7 linked regions of the Homo sapiens genome follow. The protein of the gene in region 6 purifies or fractionates together with the protein of the main gene of each other region. This does not show direct contact. Each region holds a gene or a part of one and is shown on either strand. Other genes may lie near its edges. The genes, in order: GOSR1, UST, ARL8A, ARHGAP8, BPNT2, SLC49A4 and ABCA3.

Evidence for each region.
Region 1: the proteins of SLC49A4 (region 6) and GOSR1 purify together in Homo sapiens (affinity purification with mass spectrometry; one large-scale study listed by BioGRID and IntAct). This does not show direct contact.
Region 2: the proteins of SLC49A4 (region 6) and UST purify together in Homo sapiens (affinity purification with mass spectrometry; one large-scale study listed by BioGRID and IntAct). This does not show direct contact.
Region 3: the proteins of SLC49A4 (region 6) and ARL8A purify together in Homo sapiens (affinity purification with mass spectrometry; one large-scale study listed by BioGRID and IntAct). This does not show direct contact.
Region 4: the proteins of SLC49A4 (region 6) and ARHGAP8 purify together in Homo sapiens (affinity purification with mass spectrometry; one large-scale study listed by BioGRID and IntAct). This does not show direct contact.
Region 5: the proteins of SLC49A4 (region 6) and BPNT2 purify together in Homo sapiens (affinity purification with mass spectrometry; one large-scale study listed by BioGRID and IntAct). This does not show direct contact.
Region 7: the proteins of SLC49A4 (region 6) and ABCA3 purify together in Homo sapiens (affinity purification with mass spectrometry; one large-scale study listed by BioGRID and IntAct). This does not show direct contact.

Annotation. Positions count from the first base shown.
Region 1 is NC_000017.11:30,518,908-30,522,407, forward strand, and holds part of GOSR1 (Golgi SNAP receptor complex member 1), read left to right. Parts: intron 1-1,031; coding exon 1,032-1,114; intron 1,115-3,346; coding exon 3,347-3,471; 3' UTR 3,472-3,500. UniProt on the Homo sapiens protein: Involved in transport from the ER to the Golgi apparatus as well as in intra-Golgi transport. It belongs to a super-family of proteins called t-SNAREs or soluble NSF (N-ethylmaleimide-sensitive factor) attachment protein receptor.
Region 2 is NC_000006.12:148,942,530-148,946,029, reverse strand, and holds part of UST (uronyl 2-sulfotransferase), read right to left. Parts: intron 1-3,500. UniProt on the Homo sapiens protein: Sulfotransferase that catalyzes the transfer of sulfate to the position 2 of uronyl residues in glycosaminoglycan chains. Has mainly activity toward iduronyl residues in dermatan sulfate, and weaker activity toward glucuronyl residues of chondroitin sulfate.
Region 3 is NC_000001.11:202,134,738-202,138,237, forward strand, and holds part of ARL8A (ADP-ribosylation factor-like protein 8A), read right to left. Parts: intron 3,302-3,500; coding exon 3,228-3,301; intron 1,064-3,227; coding exon 970-1,063; intron 790-969; coding exon 722-789; intron 484-721; coding exon 413-483; intron 1-412. UniProt on the Homo sapiens protein: Plays a role in lysosome motility. In neurons, mediates the anterograde axonal long-range transport of presynaptic lysosome-related vesicles required for presynaptic biogenesis and synaptic function. May play a role in chromosome segregation.
Region 4 is NC_000022.11:44,759,075-44,762,574, reverse strand, and holds part of ARHGAP8 (rho GTPase-activating protein 8), read right to left. Parts: intron 1-3,500.
Region 5 is NC_000008.11:56,980,368-56,983,867, reverse strand, and holds part of BPNT2 (Golgi-resident adenosine 3',5'-bisphosphate 3'-phosphatase), read left to right. Parts: intron 1-3,500. UniProt on the Homo sapiens protein: Exhibits 3'-nucleotidase activity toward adenosine 3',5'-bisphosphate (PAP), namely hydrolyzes adenosine 3',5'-bisphosphate into adenosine 5'-monophosphate (AMP) and a phosphate.
Region 6 is NC_000003.12:122,857,569-122,861,068, reverse strand, and holds part of SLC49A4 (solute carrier family 49 member 4), read right to left. Parts: intron 995-3,500; coding exon 867-994; intron 1-866.
Region 7 is NC_000016.10:2,275,381-2,278,554, forward strand, and holds the end of ABCA3 (phospholipid-transporting ATPase ABCA3), read right to left. Parts: intron 3,079-3,174; coding exon 2,908-3,078; intron 2,690-2,907; coding exon 2,499-2,689; intron 2,291-2,498; coding exon 2,217-2,290; intron 1,426-2,216; coding exon 1,294-1,425; 3' UTR 501-1,293; downstream 1-500. UniProt on the Homo sapiens protein: Catalyzes the ATP-dependent transport of phospholipids such as phosphatidylcholine and phosphoglycerol from the cytoplasm into the lumen side of lamellar bodies, in turn participates in the lamellar bodies biogenesis and homeostasis of pulmonary surfactant.

The sequences.
Region 1 (3,500 bases), on a different chromosome or scaffold from region 6:
CTCCAGCCTGGGTGACGGAGCAGGACCCTGTCCCCCAACCCCCAACCCCCCCCAAAAAAAGGATATTAACTCAAGAGATCTTTTAAACAGGACATCAAGGTAGTCACAGGGAAGAGATTGTGTTCGACCAAAAGTGACTTTCTCTTTTCTCTTTAATCTTTTCTTTTTTTTGAGACAGGGTCTCGCTCCATTATTCAGGCTAGAGTGCAGTGGCTCCATCACAGCTCGCTGTAGCCCCCCCCTCCTGGGCTCAATTGATCCTCTCACCTCAGCCTCCCGAGTAGCTGGGACTACAGGCACACATGTCTAGCTAATTTTTTATTTTGGTAGAGTTGGGATTTCACCACATTGCCCAGGATGGTCTTGAACTTTTGGGCTCAAGTGATCCTCCCACCTCGGTCTTCCAAATTCGGTGCTGGGATTACAGACGTGAGCCACCACACCCAGCTGTTTTAGCCACGTTTAATGAGTCTGTGACCTTTGTCAGCCATCATGGAAACCCAGCATAATGTTGCATGCATGCCTAGTTGGTTCTCAAGTAGAATTTTGGAACATAATCTCTTCATAAATTAAGGGCTGGTTGTGTATTCACATTTTATGATATTTTATATTTCTTTTCTATTTTTATAATTATAATTCCCTTTCAACAGTTTTTCCTGATTAAAGATATTTTAGTAGCTGGCTTCTTTTTAAACTCTTTTTAAACTTTTTAAAGTTTTTAAACTTTAAATTTTAAGAAGCTTTTGTAATATGTGATTTGTCTGTTTATGCCTTATTTTGTTTGTTATTTTGAAGCAAACATAGGAAGTGGCTTACTGCCTTGTATAAAAAGATATCAGAGAACAGTGGAGTCATTTGGAAAAAGCGCAGTGGTAAAGTGGCTTCGGAAGTGATTTTTTCCCCTTATTTTCTGGCACAGTGCTTTCTAAGATGATGTTGCTCACTGTAGTTTTCTTTCACTTTTAAAGGCATGATGGTTCCAGGCAGGATAATCTTAAATGGTGATTTGTCATCTTTTTTTCCCCTTGCAGCATTGCTATGGCAACAAAAGAAAATATGACTTCACAGAGAGGAATGTTGAAGTCAATTCACAGCAAAATGAACACTTTGGCCAGTATCCTTTTTGAATGTTCGCAGTCTGTGTTTTGAGGGTAGAGGGGAGAAGTGTCTGTGTGTGCTTTTATAGGGGGCAGGTTGCCATCATCAGTAGCAGTAGAGCCCATCAGTAATTGCATAATATGAATATACTGTGCATTCCTACTTTGTGAAAGTTTATGCTCTTTAGTACCATTCCTAAAAGACTGCACCTCAGAAGTTTCTTACTACTAGATGTAGAAGAAAAAAATTATAAATGTGAATTTAAAAATTATCCACCAATTTCTTCTACATTTTAGAAAGCTTTTAAATTCATGTTAGAACTCCACACTATACATTATTCTTACCTAAACATGATAAATTATATGCCTTTGTTGTTTTTCCCATTTAGAGATAAGTCAGTGGCAGATGCTTGGAAGGGGGAAGGAAGGAGACAGCCACCCGTGCAGATGAGCTATAGCTACTGATGGAGTTTGTAACTCTATGCACAGGCTGAATTCTAGGATACATTCTCCACTTGTTTGTTGTAACCTCTACTTTAAAATGTTTCAGTTTTCTGTTTTAAATTAGGATTATTAATACTTCCCAGAAACCCACTAGGGAACCAGAAAAGCCTGGCACTCTGAGTCATTTCATTCAGCGAACCTCTGAAAAGACAAGCCTTCTAGGCAAAAAGCTTTCCTCCCCAACTGCCAAAGGGGGAGGAACCTAGAATTTTCAAAAGCTGAGTATCTTGTAGTCCTAGATAATTTGAGTTCACTTTTAGTTTGATATGTCTTTGCCTAAGGAAAAGACTCTCCTGATGTGTGCTGTTATTCTCCAGTCCACTGTGAATTTTGTTCTTGCCTTGTCACCCTAAGTATAAAACCACATGTCTAAAATCACATTTTAGATAGGGCTATAAAATTTACAGAGTGCTGTTATATACATTATCTCATTTTACTAAACTATGAACTCAATTGCCAGCCAGAAAAGCTGATCAGTGAATTTAAGAGTTTGTATTTAGTGAAACTTTTGAAACTTTGAAATAGAAGTGTGAGTCAGATAGCTGATGATTTAAAACACTAAAGCCTTTCTCAATTGTTCATTAGAATTTACCACCACTCTTCTTTGTGACCTCTTCTCTACTGCTCTGTAAGCATCTCTCCCATAAGTTCTCTCTCTCTTTTTTTTTTTTTTTTTTTTTTTTTTTTTAAGACAGAGTCTCACCCTGTTACCATCCAGGCTGGAGTACAGTGGCACGATCTCAGCTCACTGCAACCTCCAGCCTCTCAGGTTCATGCAGTCCTCCCGCCTCAGCCTTCTGAGTAGCTGGGACTACAGACACGTGCCACCATGCCCGGCTAATTTTTGTATGTTTTGTAGAGATGGGGTTTCACCATGTTGCCCAGGCGAGTCTCAAACTCCTAGGCTCAAGCAGTCCTTCAGCCTTGGCCTCCCAAAGTGCTGGGATTATAGGTGTGAGCCACCCTGCCCAGCCCAACACTAAGTTCCCTTAAGGCAAAGTAGTATACTGGAACCTAGCATAGCGCCTCATACAAATAAGTCACATGGGAATTTTACAATTACTCCAAAAGAATGTGTTCAAAAAAAAAAAAAATCAAAAAAAATGGGTGTGGGTCAGGGCTAAAGTTTAGTCCACTTTCCTCCTGTATCTGCCTTCTGCTGCGAAGTAACTTTGAAAATATTAATAATTCACCAGTGTCTGATTATATAGACCTTAGAGTTGGTTCCCATGAATTGCCTGAATCTAAGGCGGGAAAAGATCAGGTATTTCTTCAAACTCTCAGGCAGAACTCCCCAGTCTCCTGAGAGAAGAGGAAAAGAGAAGGAAAATGAGGAAAGGGAGGGAAATGGGTGGTGGTGGCGATGGGAGCTGGCTATGCCTGTGCCTCCCTGCCAGAGTTCCTCCATTCCTGGCCACGCTGGCTCCCACCCTGACCTGAAGCCTGGCAGTAAGCCCTCAGTGCTTGGGAACTGTCATCGTCCTTTTCTTCTCCCTCTCTCTCTATTACTATTCTTATTTGTGTTACACACAAGACTGGGAGATGTGTATTGGTTAGGGGCCTTGAGCCGCAGCGCGTTCCCGGTTTGGGCAACTGCATCTGCTAAAGATTCCCTTGGTGTGAGTTTCTTCCCCATGCCTTTCATCACTGTTTCTAGACACCACTGATCTCTATTTTTGTGATTCCTACGACTTTTCGCCAGAGAGGCTTCTTCCAAATATGACCTTAATAAAGATTTCCCAAAGATCGTTTTCCTGCTGTAAACAGCCTGATCCAGAGGATCAACCTGAGGAAGCGGCGGGACTCGCTCATCCTAGGGGGTGTTATTGGGATCTGTACCATCCTGTTGCTGCTGTATGCGTTCCATTGATGGGACATCTTCAGGGACTCTTGACAGCC
Region 2 (3,500 bases), on a different chromosome or scaffold from region 6:
GAAATAGTGTTTTGATAAGGAAGCTAAAGCTATCTAGGGCACATGGGCATAGGATCTCTCTCTCCTCCACCCTTTATATAACTCTTCAAGGTTTTAATAATTTGAATAGCTGTTGGAGGGTCAGAACAGATGTTACGTTTATAGTGATATAGTAGCCTTTACTGTTACAACTGGTGGGAGGATGTGGACTTGCCTAGTATTTCACAGACAATGAACTGGAGTTCTGCAGAATGCAAATGAGTCACAAACACTCATTAAGACTCCCCTGAACAATGAAGACTGCAAAAACGCTAGGTGAAATCCAGTCAAACAGTTTGTTTGCAGTTTTGTTTTTAATTTTCGAAGTCTTCAAAATGCGAATAATCATCGTGAATTGATTCATTCGGGACAAGGCACGCAACATTTACCAAATTTATTGAACCATAATATTTTTTTTCTTTCAATGTCTTAGAGGACTAGGATTCTCAGGAACATACCTAGGGCAATGCTGGTATGATGATTTCGACAGAGCTTCTTAACCCTGGCTGCATCATAAAATCTCTTGTGACACTTCATTAAAGAAAAAGTTTTCTGGGCTCTACCCCAGAATCTCCAGGAGAAGGGCCACTGCAACTCTAGGTTTTAAAAGGCTCTGCTGAGATTCTGCTATCCAGCTAGAGGAGATAAACACTGCATGATGAGAATGGCTTTTGGATTAAGGAAGGCCTAGGTTCAAGGCCAAGAGCCACTGATAGTCATTACAATGTATTTGGAAAGTTACAATCTGATTGTCTTAGGTGTCTCACCCATAAAACAGGGAATCATACCCACTCAGTAGTATATTTTTAGGTCCAAAAAGTTCAATGAAACAATGAAGAAAAACAATGCAGGTTGTAGGTGCTGTATCCAACACGTAATCCTCAGTTTCAACAGAAATAGAAATAGTAAAATTATGTGCCTTCTCAATATGCTGGTAACTTTTGCTTTTCTTTAAAGAGAATGAAAGTAATTATGGATTCTCATAGTTGTAATACACCTGCAGCACTCTGACCTTTCTTGTATTTAGAGCAATGCTCAGAAAGATGGTGTCACCTCTTAACCAAAGATGGTTATGTGTTTTTTTGGCAATCACATGCCATGTCTTCTGGGGAAAAAAATTCCCTATTTTTCAAAGCTGTATATAATCTCCATTTTTCAAGAGATAATTTAAGCCAGCTTAAGACCTGAAATCTAGTTTTAGGGCATAAATGCAATGATGTCATCACAGGTTTGCATGATGAGCTGTGCGAAAGTCCAACACTTGCCCAGCAGCCATTGCCCATGCTCTGCTGTTGAGGTGATATTTCCCAAAATATGAACTTCAAAGGTATTTCTATTTTTATAAGGACAGATGTAGTGGGATTTTTATAGGCATTCTAACATTTGGTGTCTTCACACTCCCTTTCCTTTTTAATAATCCCTTCAGTGTCTTGTTCCATTTAATAGATTTAAAAAATTTAGCTCTGTGTGTGTGTGTGTGTGTGTGTGTGTGTGTGTGTGTGTATGATCACAACTACCCTCCAGAGAGCAATGCATGTGTGAATTTGACTGTGGCCCAGAGAGGTGCCTTTTTGTATGAATGAAATGGAATAGATAATCTGGTCTTAGAAATGGATAATATTCCAAAGTTCATTTGTAAGTCAGTAGTTTGAAACTTGGAGCACATTTTCTCATAAAAGAAATTCTCTACACGGTGGATAAAGTCCCAGGCCAGCCCACAAGAGCCTGTTTAAGTCATACTGCACCTGAAGTGGAATTGTTATTAACTCTAGAGGACAATGATTCTATGGGAACAAATTTTCAGAATTCTACCATTTATAGGTGAGAACAACTGACTACAATTTCCACTAGTCTTCTAAACCATTTCCCCCTTCATTCCTCTAATAAATTACCAAAAAAGGAGCTATTCATACCACAAATTATTTCTTGAATATATATTAAAATAATATTTTTTCTGTTTATGCACGTTGAAACTTTAATAAAAGCAATACAAGGACAAAAAAAGTGTTTCTCTAAATGTTGTTGAACTTCAAACTGGGTTTCTTGTCCTTTTATTTCCTGGCTTCTCTCTCTGCATGCCAGAGCCAGATGGCTGCGGAGAGGTAATAGTTACTGTTATTATGTTTGTTTTCACATTAAAATTATATATTTGTTTTTTCTACCTTATCTTTACCTTTGCCATGCGTTTTTAAAACTGCCTTACAATTTAATAGAAATCTGGAATAATGAAGTTATGAAATATATTCTAGGTCACTTTGACCACAGGAATCAGAAATGTTTCAACTACACAATACACAGATTATGCTAGAAGTTGTACAAATATATCACAGAATCACAGGGCTGGAAAGAATCTTAAAAGACTGTCTAGTCTCTTCTCTGGCTTCCAGACAAGCCAACCATTCCAAACAGATGAGAGCTAGCCTATATTTTAGAAGAGAAGGAAGACTTTGTCTTTAACCCTTTCTGGATCTAACAATCTATACATGGTTAGTAAATTGCTGTTAATTTTTATTCTAAATTATTCCATTCATAGTTACAAGTGTATTTTACTTTTTCATGTTTGCTCCTCATAGGAAACAAACTAGGTTGATCTCTATAAAATCCCAAGGCACATTTAAATACTGTACTTTGTGTTCTTTCTTCTAACAATTCCTGAACATCCCAATGTCTAATCCTTGAGTTACTTTTGTCCTGCTCTCTGCAGGTAGTTTGTTGTCTCTCCTGCAGTGGGAACTAAAATCTAGCAACTGTGTTTTATGAGGCATCTGGGAACTGAGTATGATGATATTATATTTAAGTGTAATCCCATAGATAAGCAGGCCATAAGAGTTAGATTCAAAAGAACACCAAATTTAATAATTATAATAAAATTGCAATAATGTATTTATTTATAATTCCTTTCTTTCAGGCAGTTAAAAAGGCATCACCAGCCTAATCACATTAGCTCTTCAATCAAGTAAGGTAATCAAAGAGAACCTGCCCCTACTGTATGTACAATCTTATACATAAAATGCAATATCCTTAAATGCCACCAAAGATCATTCTTTTCTTTGGAGACCCTAATATGGAACCTACAAGGTATAACCTTAAAATATTTTTTGCTGATTGGTAATGATTCTTTAACTATTCGTGCTGGTAATGGCTATTTAAACTTGATACTGAGTGATTTTTTAATGGAAGTTTGCAAAGGAGTGGGCAATTTGATCTCTGTATTATAAAAGACACAAAACATAGTGGCTTTAGAACAAGTATGGTTGGCTATGTTACTGTCTTAAAACAGTTCTACTTTCCCCCAAGATAAAATGGAAATACGCAATTGGTAAATTAAGAATGAGATTCCCTCTGTTTGTGAGGTTCTGAATGTTTCAAAGCTGGAGATTATGTCCAAAGAAAATGGACATGGATGGAAATTTATTTATTTATTTTTTTATTTACTTATTTATTATTTATTTATTGAGACAAAGTCTCGCTCTGTCTCCAGG
Region 3 (3,500 bases), on a different chromosome or scaffold from region 6:
GAACTCCAGCCTGGGTGACAGAGCGAGACACTTTCTCAAAAACAAACAAGAAGTCCAGAGCTGGCAAGCGCCACATGGCCCTGAATGAGTAGTAGCGGAATTCAGGTGCTGGGAAAGAGACAGAGCCACAGCATGTCAGAGCCAGCAGGGACCTGAGAATCACCGGGTCCAGCCCTGGAATCTTAGAAACGAGGAGGTGAAGCCCAGAGCGGGGATCGATTTGCCCGAGATCACACAACCGCTTGGCGACAAGCTGGGATAGTGCCCAGAATCTGGGCCACCTGGCTGCCTTTTCTACCCAAGAGCCACAGGGCTTTGGACTTCAGGGAAAGTTGTGGAGCGAGAACCTGAGAGCCACTAAAACACTCAGAAATGCCTCTCCCCTCTCCTCCCTTTCCCCCATCCTACGCACCAATGTTGTCCTTTTCTTTGCAAGAGATGGAGTAGCAGCAGATCTCTCGGTCCTGGATGGCAGACAGATTCCTGGGGGAAACCAGAGTAGAGTCCGCTGAGGCTACGAACGTCCAGGGGGCCTGGGGCTAGGGGACAGCGGGGCCTTTTTCTTACCTAAGAGGCTACAAAGGGGAGGGTGAGGTGCCTGAAAAGGTCGGCTCTGCTGCCACCGTGTGGCTAATACTAAGAACAGCAGCAAGCCTAGGCTGTTGGTCTGGTGGTTGGGGAATTGGGAGAGCAGAAAGTAATATAGAGTCACCCAACTCACATTTTCTCAATCAGCTCCTTCTCATCCAATGCTCCCGGAAGGTCTCGCTTGTTACCCAGGACTAAGACCTACGGAGAAGGGAGGGTGAGGATGAGGTCTAGGGCAGCCGTGCCCAGGTTGTCTGGGTGGTGAGCTGGCCTCCTGGGTCCCGTTTCCTCTCTGCGCCCCTACCATGCCTGGCTTTTACCTGCTCCCAGTGACTTCCCAGCCGAGCTCCCTCCCCATCCCGCTCCCTCAGGTCTGCTGACCGGGATGCCCTGCAGCTGAGGTTTGTCCAGTAGGTTGTGGAGCTCGTTCTTAGAGGCCTCAATCTTCTCCTGGTCAGCAGCATCCACCATGTACCTGGGGAAAGAGGCAGGGTGGGGACAAGCATGTTGACACCACAGGCTGAGGTGGTGCAAGGAAGAGAAGGAGCTGCTGCTTGGAGGTGAAAGCATCTGTTGCAGCTTGGTCACCTCGGGATCCATGGGCTACCTGGCCTGGCTCAAGGCAGGTGCTCCGCGGATGTTTTCTGAGTCTATGGGAGTGAACAGCTGCAGGGACTCCTTAGGCCTGCCATTAGCCTCCAAGTGCTACTCTGGGGAAGCCGTTACTCATGTGGAAAAGCGTGGGCCCTTTGAGATTAGCTGTAAGTCCCTCTCAAAGTGACCCACTTATGTTTTCATGGAAAGACTAAATAAGGTTAGAGTGAAAAAAGCAAAGGAAACCTTAGAAGATTTCTTTTAGCAAGATACTTTTTGTTATCAGGTTAAAAAGCAACCTATTGTGTATTCTAAACAATCTATTGTTTGGGCATATATATATAGAATAAATTTTATTATTATTATTAATATCATTTTTGAGATGGAGTCTCGCTCTGTTGCCAGGCTGGAGTGCAGTGGTGCAATCTCAGCTCACTGCCACCTCCGCCTGCCAGGTTCAAGCGATTCTCCTGCCTCAACCTCCCAAGTAACTGGGACTACAGGCACATGCCGCCACGCCCGGCTAATTTTTTGTATTTTTAGCAGAGATGGGGTTTCACCATGTTAGCCAGGATGGGCTCAATCTCCTGACCTTGTGATCCACTCGTCTCGGGCTCCCAAAGTGCTGGGATTACAGGCATGAGCCACCGCATCCAGCCTATTATTTTCTGAGGCAGGGTCTCACTGTCACCCAGGGTGGAGTGCAGTGGTGCAATTACAGCTCACTGCAGCCTCGGCTTCCTGGACTCAAGAGATCCTCCCACCTCAGTCGTCTGAGTAGCTGGGACTACAGGTGCGTGCTACCAGGCTCAGCTAATTTTTGTACTTTTGTAGAGATAGGGTTGCACCATGTTACCCAGGTTGGTTTTGAACTTCTGACCTCAAGTAATCCGTCTGCCTTGGCCTCCCCCTGTGCCCTGCCATTTTTCTTTTCTTTTCTTTTCCTTTTTTTTGAGACAGAGTCTCGCTTTGTCGCCCAGGCTGGAGTGCAGTGATGCGATCTCGGCTCACTGCAAGCTCCGCCTCCTGGGTTCACGCCATTCTCCTGCCTCAGCCTCGCGAGTAGCTGGGACTACAGGCGCCTGCCACCACGCCCAGCTAATTTTTTTTGTATTTTTGGTAGAGACAGGGTTTCACTGTGTTAGCCAGGATGGTCTCGATCTTCTGACCTCGTGATCCGCCCACCTCGGCCTCCCAAAGTGCTGGGATTACAGGCGTGAGCCACCGCGCCCAGCCCATGCCCTGCCATTTTTCAATGTTTAAAATTTATTTTATTTTATTTTTTTAAAGACAGGATCTTGCTATGTTGCCTAGGCTGGCCCTAAACTCCTGGGCTCAAGCAATCCTCTTGCCTCAGCCTCCCAAGTAGCTGGGATTACAGGTGTGTGGCACCATGCTCAGCCAAAAAAAACATTATTTTTAAAAAGCAAGAGAGGGCTGCGCGCGGTGGCTCATGCATGTAATTTGGGAGGCCGAGGCAGGCAGATCACCTGAGGTCGGGAGTTCAAGACCAGCCTAACCAACATGGAGAAACCCTGTCTCTACTAAAAATACAAAAGTGGCCAGGCGTGGTAGCGCATGCCTGTAATCCCAGCTACTTGGGATGCTGAAGTGGGAGAATCGCTTGAACCTGGGAGGCAGGAGGTTGTGGTGAGCCGAGATCGCACCATTGCACGCCAGCCTGGGCAACAAGAGCGAAACTCCGTCTCAAAAAAAAAAAAAAGAATCATTTAAACCACACAAAATTCAAGACAGTGGTGACTTTGGGTTGAGGGGAGGGAGACAAGTCAATGAAGAGGATGCACAGGTGCATCTGGCTGGTTAATAGTCTATAGTCTGTTTCTTAGATTGGGTAGTGAGTGCCCAGGGCATTTATCCAATAAGAAACAAGTGGCATGCAAAATAAACGCAGGCCCTGGACCGACACTGTGTCATGAACCAAGGATTATGTCTAATAAAACCCTGCGCCTCTGAGGTCCTCGAAGGTAGCAGGGCTAGGGGGGCCGGGTAAGGCTGGAGTCTGGCGATGCCTCCCGTGTACTTACACGATGGCGCTCACTCCTCGGCAGTAGCGCTCCCACATGCTGCGGAAACGCGGCTGTCCCCCAATGTCCCAGAGCTGAGCAAGAAGAGGGTGAGATAGCCTCAGTAGTGGGCAGGCCACCAAAACGTGTCTTGGGTCTCAAATGCCCCCTCCTACCCTGCCCTACTCTCCTCTGCCTCCCCGGCTTCCTCTCCAGTTCTCCCCCGTCTCCACCCGCTCTCCGTCTACCTTAGAAGTCTTCTACTGTCTTTTCCCAGCTCCTCAGCAGGGGGAC
Region 4 (3,500 bases), on a different chromosome or scaffold from region 6:
GAGACTCCATCTCAAAAAAAAAAAAAAAAAAGAGAGAGAGAGAGTTCATAATGAGTAACAAAAGATGCTCTTCCAAGGGTTTTAGGAGCTCTGCCAGGAACCAGGGACAAAGACCTAACAAAGATTTTTTTTTGTTTTAGAGATGGGGTCTCATGCTGTTGCCCAGGTTGGAGTACAGTGGTATGATCATAGCTCACTACAGCCTTGAACTCCTGGGCTCAAGCGATCCTCCCACCTCAGCCTCCCGAGTAGCTGAGACTACAGGTGCACACCACTGTACCTGGCTTTTTCATGTATTTTGTAGAGACTGGGTCTCACTATATTGCCCAAACTGGTCTCAAACTCCTGGCCTCAAGTGATCCTCCCATCTCAGCCTTCCGGCTCACTGGGATCACAGGCACAAACCACTGTGCTCAGCTAAGATTCATTATACCACAGCCCCCACCTGCAGGTCAGCTCCTGTCTGTCCTTCTGATCTCTGTTAAGACAATTCTCTGATATGGTTTGGCTGTGTTCCCACCCAAATCTCATCTTGAATTGTAGCTCCCATAATTCTCACATTATGGGAGGGACCTGGTGGGAGGTAACTGAATTATGAGTTGGGGGGGGTTCCCCCACACTGTTCTCATGGTAGTGAATAAGTCTCATGAGATCTGATGGTTTTATAAGGGGAAACCCCTTTTGCTTGGTTCTCACTCTGTCTTTGCTGGCCACCATGTAAGATGTTCCTTTGCTCTTCCTTCACTTCCACCATGATTGTGAAGCCTCCCCAGCCACATGGAACTGTAAGTCAATTAAACCTCTTTCCTTTATAAATTACCCAGTCTCGGGTGTGTCTTTATCAGCAGCGTAAAAATTGACTAACATATTCTCTCTTTCCAAACAGGAGCATGGCAGGCCCCTCTCCATATACTCTTAGCTCCCTGTATCCATTACTCATAGCTCTCAACCAGGTGCAAGTTTACAGACGTCCCTTGGGGAATTCATTCCAGGACTCCTGGCAGATACCAAAATCCACAGATGCTCAAGCCCCTGCTGAAATATGGTGTAGTATTTGCATATAACTTATGCATATCCTTCTGTATGCTTTAAATCATCTCTAGATTACCTGTAACACTTAACACAATGTAAATGCCTGTAAATAGTTCTTACATTGTGTTGTTTAGGGAATAAGGAGAAAAGTCTGTATAAATTCAGTACACACAACCATTTATTTTCTTTTCCCAATACACTAAATCCGCGGTTGGTTGAATCCACAGATGAGGAACCCATAATATGGAGCCCATGGATACAGAGTCCACGGTTACAGAGGCCACGGATGCAGAGCCCACGAATACAGAGGCCACCAATACGGAGGGCTGATGGCACTTATTTCCGTGATCCTTTTGCTAATGTTAACATGGGCCTCCCTTAGCAGATCAAAGTTTCACGAGGACCAAGCCCATGCCTGGATTTGCTCAAACAGTATCCGTGGTGCCTAGTACAGGGCCTGGTACATGCAGGTCCTTCGTAATCATCAAAATGAAGTGAAAATAAACCAGACATTACAAGTGGGCCCTTTCTCCTGGCCAGTGGGCTTCAGAGCAGAAGCTCCATCCCCCAAAGCCTGCCTCGCCCTGCATGTGAGTCCGCACATGCCTCAACTCCCTCCCGACCCTCCCTGACAAGCCCTTTCTCTCGGATCCCCCCCAGGGTCGGGGACAAGGACACAGAGGCACCATCAGCATCTGTGGGGCTGGGCCAGCTGCAGCCCCTCATTAGACATGGACCCGAACAGGCATGCTGGCAGAGTGGATGTTATGCAAAGGAAAATTCAAATCACCCAACTGTTCTATTTATAATTCATAGCAAAATGGTTTGTTGCTGTAAAAATATATTTGCACATTACACAAATAGACCCTCACAGCAATTATCTTAATGCTGTAGCTACAAATTAACACCTACTTACCTCGGGCAAATTAGCACCAAACTTAATTTGAGTGGCAAGTCCGATGTGCAGGGCATACAGAGGAAGAGCTCGCTGTGGTATTTGCACAATGCAGGCTCTCGTTTTGGAACTGGGTGTTCTGATAAAGGGCTCTTGGGAGAAGGAGGCAATGAGTTTGATGCCACCCAGGCCTAAGCTTCCAAGACCCAGAGACAAAGAAGCTTGCACACAGTCATACCTGAGGCAGACACTGGCCAGCGACTCCTGGGAAAGTCCAGGAATGATGGGGGCAGGAGATCTTGCTCATGGCTGAATGGGGGTCACTACTGAGCTGGGATTCCAGGGTCCCCCAGTGGCATCCCATAAAAAGTAACTTCCACTCTTTTGTCTCAGCTATGCATGAATTCGTTAATACAGACCCTCACTACCCAGTCTTCATCACAACCACCACTGGGTCCCCAACGCTGGCAAGACGGCATGCGCAAGGCCATTTGTCCAGGTAGCAGATACATGAGACCCCCGAAGGTGGCGGCAGCGAAGTCCAAACAAGCTGACTGTGACCTGCATCAGGACCTTGTCAGAGGCCTGCCCACAAACCGCAGGAAACCTTCAGCACCCTGAAAGGGCAAGGGGGTCTCTAAAGGGCTGCTGGGGTCACCCCCTCTCCTGTGGGTCAAGACTCAGGGCTCCTCACACAGCCTTTAGGGAACACCAAGCATCTCTGCTGCCCTGCGCAAGGGCACCCAGGTGATCATTCGGGTGCGCAACTCTCACCTGCACACCCTCCAGCTGCAAGAGGTGAGGCTGTCCCGCCTCCCAGGGCCCGCCCAGTTAGGCTAAGAGTAATCATATCTCCCTTTTCAAAGGTTAATTCAGAAACCCAAGCCAGAGCTAATCAGCACGAGGCAATCTCCCTGACAATCTCCCTGACCATCTCCCTTCAGGCCCCTGAGGCTCCAGGATACTTCTGAGACAGAAGATCCTGTTTCTCAAGACAGAACCACTGTGAGAGTCTCTGCGCAGCTGGGTATGCAGATGAGACCCGGAGGGCTGCAGCCAACTTGCCGCCCCTCTGCAGACCCAGCAGCCCACAGAGAATGAAGGGAATAGCTAACCCCTGATCAAGCCACACCTGATCTCCATACTATCCCCAGACCTTTGCAGCTACATGGGCTAATGCACCCCCCTTGACTTTGGGCCGGTTCAGAGTTGTGTTTTCTGTTAATTACAGCCAAAAGCGTCCTGATGCTCCAGGTGCCCTGCCTACCCCAGATTGGGAGAGGGGCTTCCTGTGGGCTCTGGCAGCCCCCAGGTCCATCACAGCCCTCATCAGTCTGCACCATGTACCTGTATGCTCTTCTTGACCCATCACTGTGTGTGCCCTGACAGCAGGGCCATGTCTGACTCACGTCTGAGTCTCTGCACTCAGCCAACCCGGGGCTGGGGACACGAGCAGGGACTTGGGAGGTCTGTTGAATAAAAGAACAAGCAGAGGGCTTGGGACAGACCCCGGGATCCAAGGCCCAGCGTGGCCTGGTTCCACCCACACTCCAGGGTCACCCCACCATCCACC
Region 5 (3,500 bases), on a different chromosome or scaffold from region 6:
TATTTTTTTTCCCCTCTTCCCAAAATGTTGTGTTGCTTCTTGACTTTTTGTTCTACCATGTAATTTTCAGAAATGCCTTGTCCAGTTTCCAAGGAGAAGGTTAAAAAAAACCAACAACAACAAAAAACACTGGGGATTTTGATTGGAGTTGCATTTATCTGCAAGCTCTTTTAGATTTTCTCAGTGCTCAATAATCAACTTCATATTATGGATTGGTTTTTCTTTCTAAACTTTGTACCTCCCCACTTGCTCCTCTCCCCCTCCCTTTAGCTTACTGCAATGACTAGGACCCTCTGCACATTGTTAATAGCTGTTATGATGGAGGGCAACTGGCTCTGTGTTGCAGCCTGCGAGGTCCTTCACCATCTGGCTTCCATTACTCTCTGACCTCAGCTCCTTAGCCTTTCTCCTTGGCTCACTCTGCTGTAGCCTTGCTGGCCTCCTTGCTGCCCTCTGAACACACCAGGCACATTCCCACCTTAGGATCTTTTCATTTGTTATTTATTGGGCTAGAATGCACTTCTAGATGCCTGCCAGGCTTATTTTCTTTAGATCTCTTCAGTCAAATACCACCTTTTCAGTGAGGGGCTTCTCTAGCTACATTACTTTTTTTTCAAAACAACTTCATTGCAGCATAGTTTTTATATCTTACAATTTGTCTATTTCAAGTATACAATTCAGTAATTTTTAGAACTGCCAAATTGTACAACTATCATCATTAATCAGTTTTAGAACATTTTCACCACCCTAATAATACCCCTGACCCCATTAACTGTTTATTCTTGTTTTTATCCCTTATCCCAGGCAACCACTAATCGGTCTTTCTCTATAGATTTGCCTTTCCGGACATTTTACATTAATGGAATCAAACAGTATATGATCTCTTGTATGTTGATGCTTTCACAAAGCAAGGGGGTTCATCCATGATTTAGCATGATCAATACTTTATTCGTATATATGGCTGAGTAACTTTCCATTGTATGGATATACCAAATATATTTATCCATTCATCAGGGTAATGGATAAACTACTAATTGATGGAATTAGTAGTTTTCTGATTTTAGCCATTATGAATAATTGCCTAGCCACCCTTTCTTAATACTATCTACCCCTTTTTCTTAAAGAATAACCCTTCCACTACTCTCTAACAGTCCTTTCTCTACTCTCCAACAACACTCTTTCTGTCCTTTTGGTCTTTATTTTTTCCTCCTTATCACTATCCAGCATACTACATGTTTTTTCATGTGTCTCGTTGTTTATCTATACTAGAATCTAAGTTCCACAGGGCAGAAATTTTTGTCTCACATTGATCACTGTGGTATCTTTAAGACCTGTAACTGTGTCTGTCATATAGTAGGCAATCAATAAGCATTTGCTGAATTAATAAAGACATAAGTGAATAAATTGAATGTTTACTTTGCTCTGTACTGAGAAATATTTAAAGATTTACCAGGCGCGGTGGCTCATGCCTGTAATCCCAGTACTTTGGGAGGCCGAGGCGGGCAGATCATGAAGTCAGGAGATCGAGACCATCCTGGCCAACACGGTGAAATCTCGTCTCTACTAAAAATACAAAAATTAGCTGGGTGTGGTGGTGGGTGCCTGTAGTGCCAGCTACTCGGAGGCTGAGGCAGGAGAATCACTCGAACCCGGAAAGTGGAAGTTGCAGTGAGCCGAGATTACACCACTGCACTCCAACCTGGTGACAGAGCGAGACTCCGTCTCAAAAAAAAAAAAAAAAGAGATATTTAATGATTTAAGCGGTTTGATGTTTCTAGAATATTAGTATTTTTAACCTCTCCTGTGATAATTTGGGGTGTTTCAGGGTACCTTCTGGAGATTGGTGATAGTTATATTTTTTAAAATCATGTCTGTGTCTCTGCAACTTTCTGAAGACTATAGGTGAGAGATGTTGTATTGACAATACTCATGTATTGTCAGTGCTGTAATCGCTTTGGCACTGTAGCGTGGGGTCTAGGCATGGCATCACATGTAGCATAAACATGACCTACTCTGGAAAGGGAGCTTGTCAGAAAGCACAGGACCCAACAGCCTGTCCTGCTGAGAGTGTAAGTCCCTAACTAAAATCAAAATTTTGGGGACATTTTTTCTTGTGTGTGTGTATGATGATGTGATAGAAGTCTCATGGTGAGGCAGTATTCATATAAGATTGATGATCTGTTATTAACTTAATTCTTAAAGAACACTCAATTCTTAGATTTAGTCAATTGGTATATGCCAGTTTACAAAAGTAAATGCAGTTCTAAAACATTTTTTTATTATTATTTATTTTTTGTTTTTTTTGAGATGGAGTCTTGCTCTGTCGCCAGGCTGGAGTGCAGTGGCGTGATCTTGGCTCACTGCAACCTCCACCTCCAGGGTTCAAGTGATTCTCCTGCCTCAGCCTCCCGAGTGGTTGGAACTACAGGCACGCACCACCATGCCTGGCTAATTTTTGTATTTTTAGTAGAGATGGGGTTTTACCATGTCGGCCAGGATGGCCTTGATCTCTTGACCTCGTGATCCAGCCGCCTCGGCCTCCCGAAGTGCTGGGATTACAGGCGTGAGCCACCACACTTGGCCAAAACATTATTTTTAAAACACTGTTTTACAAATTAGACTAATTTTAGGATGCATTAAGAAGCACACTGTTGAAAACAGTGTTTTTTACATAGGATGGGACAGGGGCGCACTTGACAATGTCCGGAGACATTTTTGTTTGTCACACCTGAGGGTGTTGTTGCTGGCATCTGGTGCGTTCTAGTGGCATTCAGCCAGGGATGCTGTTAAACATCCTACAATGCACAGGACAGCCCCACAACAAGGAATTATACAGTCCAAATTGTCAGTCGTGCCAAATTGAGCAATCTCAATTTAAAGGAATCTGTAATGTGTTTGTAAATGAATAGAATACTTACATAAAGTATTATACAAACACATGTATATATATGTTATATGTAGAAATAATATATAATATATATTATACAGAGAGAATATATATGTGTAAGGGGGGTTTGTGTGTGTGTGTGTGTGTGTGTGTGTGTGTGTATATGTATGTATGTAAGGGTGTGGGGTAAGGAGAGAATATATTCCTTAAGGAGAGAATATATTCCTCTATTCTCGTAACAACCCTTCCTCTACTTATATTTCTCTCCTTACCCCACATCCTTACATATCTGTATGGTAAGTTAAATTTATTTTATCTTTTAATTTTGTTCCTTAGTTAAAAAAAAAAAGGTAGAAAATTTGACTGTACCTCCCTATTCTATGATACGTCTTTCTTCTAACTCTAGTTGCTTGTGTTGTGTTCCAGAATATTGTCTATTTTCACACTTTAGAGCTATTATCTTTCATAAAGCATTGTTAAGGTTTAAGTAGCTTGTTTCTTCAATGCTCAGTTTCTCTATATTTCTCTATATCCGAATTATCTGTCTTGATTAGTCAACAAACCAGGCTTGAATATTAGATTGGGAAGCATTTAAAGACCTGATGTCATGGAT
Region 6 (3,500 bases):
GGGTTCAGAAGCAGATGTAACGATGGAAGAAAGGCACAGATAATGCAACGTGAAAAGGACTTGACCCAAGGTTGCTGGCTCTGAAGGCAGAGGACAGAGCCATAAACAAGGAATGTGGGTGACCTCTAGAAGTTGGAAAAGGCAAGGAAAAAGATTCTTCCCTAGAGTCTGTTCACATTTTGATTTTAGCCCAGTGAGACCTGTATTGAACTTCTACTCTACAGAAATGTAAGATAATAAATTTCTGTTGTTTTAAGTTGCTAAATTTGCATAACTTTTACAGCAGCAATAGAAAATAGACTCTGAATTGATGATATTAATAATGACAAGAAAAACAACAGCAACTAAAAATGTTTCAGGTCCATTAGATAAGCTAAGTAAGCTGGCTGTAATATACTTTCAACAGGTATTTCCAGTAAGTTTTGCTTTGTATTAATGATGGAATAACACTAAATGTAAAATAAACCTATAGGGGCTGGTTCAAATAACTTTACTGAAGTATACCATAGTTTTTTGCCTTGTTAATTATTATTATTATTTAACAGTGATATAATGACTATAACCAAGATAAAAATCTTTGTATTATGCTCTGATAGAAATTTTAAACAAATATAAGCATTTCCATGCTCTATGTGTTAAGGCTAAAGATTATACTTCTTTTCCATGTGAAAAATACCAATTAAAATATTTTTAGTTATTTTTTGGACTCTTTAGATAAGATGATGGTTTGATGACTGGACAAGAGAAACTTTTTTGTATATTTAACAATTACTTACAGAAAGCAAGAAGAAGTCCTACTGTCAGAGTTATGTACACTTCTGTGAATGAAAATATTTATTAAAAGTTCAAAAATAGCCTATGCTCACCTGTGGTTAAAGGTAGGTGTGTGATGCTGTTCAAACAGGTCAGGGTGAACCACGTGGATGACAGTGTAGCTCCCGAAAACAGGAGGAGAAGAATTAGTTTCAGCATACCCCTGATAAAATCTGCAAACCTAAAAACAAAAATGCTCTATTAATTCTAGTGGGATTTAAAAATACTATTTAAGCAAATGACACACTTTCACTAACAACTACTTGAGGAATTTTCCATATATTCTTTTAAAAGACAGTTTTCAGTGTTTTTTTAAAACAAATTTTCTTGTATGATGTTACTTTGTGATAATTTTTTTTCTCTTATAAAACACAAAAAACGGCATCTTTGTTCAGGATCTATAATTTATAGGATATATTCTGAGTGTTTACTTTTTTTTAGAGACAGGATCTCACCATTGCCTGGCTGGAGTGTAGTGATGTGATCACGGCTCACTGCAGCCTCACCTCCCAGGCTCAAGCAATCCTTCCACCTCAACCTGCTGAGTAGCTGGGCTAATTATTATTTTTTTGTGTGTGTACAGGGTTTCTCTATGTTGCCCAGACTGGTCTTGAACTCCTGGGCTCAAGGATCCTCCCACCTCAGCCTCTCCAAGTGCTGGTATTACAGGCATGAGCCACCATGCCCAGTTGATTCTGAGTTTTTAAGTGTCACTGTCATTTTCTTCATATTTTTCTATACTTTCCAAACATTCTATAATGAACATGTATTATCTTAGTTTTGAAAATCAGGCTAACTTGTTGACATGAACTTGCAAAGATCTCTCTCAAAATTCAAACTCACTTAGAGAACAAACACAGATGCCTACACCAGAGCCTCTGAGGTCCTATGTGACCTGCTGCCTGGCCCTGCTCTCTCTTCTTCTACTGTTCTCCAGTTGGATGGCCATGTTTCTGTTTCTCATACATGCCATGGTTGCTTACCACAGCAATATGTAGCTTCCGTACTTGTTCCGTCTGCCTGGAATGCTGGTACCACCCGGATCTTCACGTCTTACTCCTGTTTACCCCTCAGGTCATTCAGGTCTCAGTTCAACAAGGCCCTCTGGGCTCAGTGAAGAAGTCTTTCCCCATCCCACCTCCACTTTCTATTTTATTTCTTCATAGCACTTTCTCTATTGGAAACTCTTGTTTTTGCATTTATTTTTGTCTTCCCTACCAGATTGTAAACTTCTTGAGAACAAAACATACACGGCATCTGGAATAGTGAATATTATTCTTCTAAACTTGGGACTTTTATAGCATTTTAAGTTTTCATGTTTGAGTTTTCATGAAACTAAAGGGCATCTGGTAGAGACGCTTATCATTAGCTATGCCAAAAAAATTTTCCACTTGCCAGCTGCTTTTCCTCACCTGTGGATTAACTGTTGATTGTACGGGCACAATCCTCTGGCTGCACAATTTATTCTGTCCTTCAGAACTGTTCCTCTTATAGAATAGCTGATCCCATCTCAAATACAACATTTACTATATTCTCTTCACTTTTAATTTTCTAAAGTTGATTTACATTTCTATTGTAATTATGTGACTGTCCTTCTTAAAACTTTGAATACTATCTTCTGTTTTGTACTTATTTGACATGATATGGTTAATCATGTTTGTGTTTTCTAGAATAAAATGACTTCCTATGAGAGCTGATGCCATCTTTTGGTGGGAAAAATGAATGCACTTTTGCCCAGTGACTTAAATTTGTCCTCAAGCAGAAAATTCTTAGGTATGCTGAAAAAGTTTCCACAGCTTTACAAAATATTCCTCAAGAAAATCCAAAAGACTGTTTTAATCCCACGCTTACCTAACAGTTTTCAGATTTACATTTTGGTATGCTGCATAAACTTATTTGTCAGATACAGAGATGACAAGGTATAAGAGAATAAAACAGGCTTTTAGTACAAATCAGAGTTGAATTGCAAGAAAGTTTCACAGAAACTGATCATACAAGAATAAACCGACAACTGTAGTCTGCTATTTTTGGAGATCCAGTCCTTTCGAATAGGCTGATACCATTGAAGTGTATTATTAGGACGAAGAAGTATCTTTAATAGTGGTCTTTAATTACAAAAATATCACCCAAAGCACTCATGTATGTCTACAAGGTAGCACTGTCCTAGGGAATCCCAAAAAATGGTGTCAGGAAAGTAATTTTAAAATTGATTTTAGGGCTAGGAGATAACTGAAATTGACTTCAGATCCCAGAGTAAGGGTAGTATTTTTTTAGAACTTCCATTTCAACAAATTAAAAGCAGAAAAGTCCTCATTCTAAATTTTCCCTTTAATTATATCTATATCTAGTTAAAATTAAGGGGTATAGAAGGAAAATAATGACAAAGGAGCATTTGAGACATCATTTTTGATACATAATTGTTCCCCCTTTGACCAATTTGGTGCTCAGAATAGGATGTGATCAATGACTCACTATAATTGGCTTGGAGATTTAACTAGAAAAATGAGGTATGATTCTTGTCAAAATAAGACAGGTCAATGTATTTTTAGTATCAGTGATTTCCTACAAATACTATATTCCCCTTCTGCTTCTTTAGCTTTTAGTTTTCTTATATTTTCCTAACACTTCAAATAAAGTGATTTAGAAATTACAGTGTCAATTTATTCTTTCAATATCCCTGAAACACT
Region 7 (3,174 bases), on a different chromosome or scaffold from region 6:
ATTAGCTGGGTGTGGTGGCGCGTGCCTGTTGTCCCAGCTACTCGGGAGGCAGAGGCAGGAGAATGGCTTGAACCCGGGAGGCAGAAGTTGCAGTGAGCCAAGATTGCGCCACTGCACTCCAGCCTGGGCAACAAAGCAAGACTCCATAAATAACTAAAAAGGGAGCTGATGAGGAGTTATTTCTGGGAAATGGCAAATGCCCACGGGTGACCCTGATGCCAGCAGCTTCTCTCCCACCAGACCTGTGCTTCCCACACAGCCCCACCTGCTCTTGTCTTTAGACTAAGAGCCTGTCACCGGGCGTTGATCTAGCCGGCTTTTTCCTTTGTGTTATGGGCCTGTTCCTTCACCTCAGTGTATTCTCTGCGTGTGCTCCCTTCTGGGAAAAGCAACGTCCCACGTTTGTGTGATTGAAATGTGAAAGGAGAGCCTCATGTCTAGATTGTGGGCGAGTGATTGAGCCCTGTGACCGCTCGCGCGTGTGACCCACAGACTGTGACTGTGTCCCCTCAGCATTTATTTTCTGGATGGTCACAACGTATTCAATGTGTCCTTGAGACAGCCACCCAGCCCTTAGGGTGGTCCCTGCGTGTCCTGGGGCGGGCGACTTCCTGAGGGTGCAGTGCTGGAAACAGAGACTGCTTCGAGCCTGGCCACCTTCCCTCCTGTGCCGGCTGCTTCTAGGAGATGCTGTGGGACGGTGCCCGGCTTCGCGGTGACTACCATGCCCTAAGGAGCAGAGCCTCCAGGATGCCCCCGGGCTGCGCTGGACGCTAAGACCCCAGCACCTAATCACAGTCAGCAGCTTCCCTCCACTGACAGTGATCTGCATGGTCCATTCCTGGCGGCCTGGGGGCCTCGCTACAGTTCAACCTGGCTGGCTTCCCGCTTCCTCCCCAGGGGAGATTAGTGTCGTGTGTAAACTTGGACAAGTCACTGGGTCCTCTCTCCAGGGAGTGCCTGGAGAAATTCAACCCCCAGCTCAGCTGCAGCCCTTCCTGGGTCAGCTCTCCACCCAGAGACCCCGGAGCTTGCCCGCAGACTGCCCGGCCTGCCCCAGCTCTGGGAAAGTGAACTCCAGAGTATGCAGACATGGAGATGCGCATGCTGATCCTGGGCATGAGGGCTGGGCTGCACTCGTCCATTCTGTGCATACTGCCTTGAATTTTTCATATCCATCATAGAAAAAAGTGATTAAAAATAAAGGATGAGATAAACTTGGAGAGAGAGGATGTAAGATGGGCCCTGCTTGCCCGTCCTGTCCCTGCCTGATGGCGAGACAGCCGCCACCCCTCATCGCCCCTCCTCTGCGGTGGGCGGCTGCAGGTGGGCGAAGCTCAGGAAGACCTGTTCCAGCGAGATCTGGCTCACGGAGTAGTCGTCCACGCCGTACTTTTCCTTGGCTTTCTCCAGAATACCGAAAACCTTTGGGGAGCAGAAAAGTCACTGGTAGGAGAGAACAGGGCCCAGGCTCCTCTGCGGGACCTGGGAGTCCTCTGGCAATAGGGGCTGATGAGGCCCCCACAATCCTACCCCTGCCCAGCGCCACCCCAGAGCCCCAGAGAGGTCAGCCCTGCGACGGCACCGTGCTCCCAGGTAGAGGACGCTGGCTAAGCAGGAGCCAGCGGGGATGGGGCCCAGCCTCCTCCCTGTGCTGTTCCCAGCTCAGATTACAACCTTGAGCCAGTGATGTTCCCTTTCTGAGCCAGTTCTTTTTTTCCCCCATATTTTTTTAGAGAGAGTCTTGCTCTGTAGCCCAGGCTGGAGTGCAGTGGCACAATCATAGCTCACTGCAGTCTCGAACTCCCAGGCTCAAGCGATCCTCCCACCTTAGCCTCCCGAGTGGCTGGGACTACAGGTATGCATGATACCTGGCTAATTTTTAAATTTTTTGTAGAGACGGGGTCTATGTTGCCCAGGCTGGTCTAGAACTCCCAGGCTTAAGCAATCCTCCCTCCTCGGCCTCCCAAAGTGCTGGGATTATGGTGTGAGCCACCATCCCTGACCCCTTTCCTGTTTTACACTGAATTCCTTTTACCACTGATAATTTTGGATATAAAACCCCCAAACCAGCACGTATCAGGCTGAGTGTTAGGGGAGAAATGGAAAGTGACTCCTCTGTGGAAAGAGCCTGCAGTCACCACAGAGGGAGAGACCCCTGGAGGGACCTCCCCCTGCCCCATGAGTGCCCAGTGGGGCCCCAGGGACTGCCTCACCTTCGCCCAGCTGAGGTCACGGCCCGGCAGGTGGTAATGGACCATGCCTTGGTGCTCATCTTCCAGGACGCTGCCTGCACAAAGGAGAGACGGTGTTGCTGTGAGCGCCGGGCTGGAGGATCGGGGAGGGTGCCTGGGTGCTCAGCACTGGAGTCCTCGTCCCAGGGATTGGGGAGATGGGACTTGGCGGGGCGAGGCACAGACGCTCCGCACAGCAGATGGGAGAGGCCTAGGTAGGGGCCCAGGGCCCACCCAGTGGGGGCTGCCGGGGCCGGCACACACCTGGAAAGGTCAGGTCCACGAAGGCCTTGAACTCCTCCAGCGCCTCCTGTTGCCCTTCACTCTGCACCTTGGCCCGCAGGGAGTAGCCGCTGCCGAACTTGCTCTTGAGGTGCTGGGGGCTGCCCAGGCACTTGAACTGCCCCTGCACCATGATGGCCAGCCGGGTGCACAGGGCCTCACACTCCTCCATGCTGTGGAGAGGGCGGGACCTCAGATAGGGCTTGGGGTGCCAAAGGCTTGTGCAGACAGGAAGGCATTGGCTCTCCGATCAGGCTGTTCCTGATACCCATGCTCAGTGTGGCTCACGGGCAGACTCTGCACCAGATGCTGATGGGTCTCCTGGCCACCTGGCTCCTCCATGGCCCACCCGGTGCTGAAACTTCCAGTAACCCACAGACCCAGGCTCTACCTGTGGGAGGTGATGATGATGGCCTTGCCAGACTCTCGGGCTCGTGCCACGGTGTCCCAAAGCAGGCGCCGGGCCACGGGGTCCATGCCAGTGGACGGCTCGTCCAGGAAGATGACAGCAGGCTCTCCGATCAGGGCGATGCCGGTGCTCAGCTTCCGCTTGTTACCACCACTAGAGGCAGGAGGGTGCCAGGTGGGGGAATAAGGCTGAGAGTTAGCATTGGCTCCCATGTCCCAGTGGAGGCCCGTGTCCCAGCAGCGGCCCACA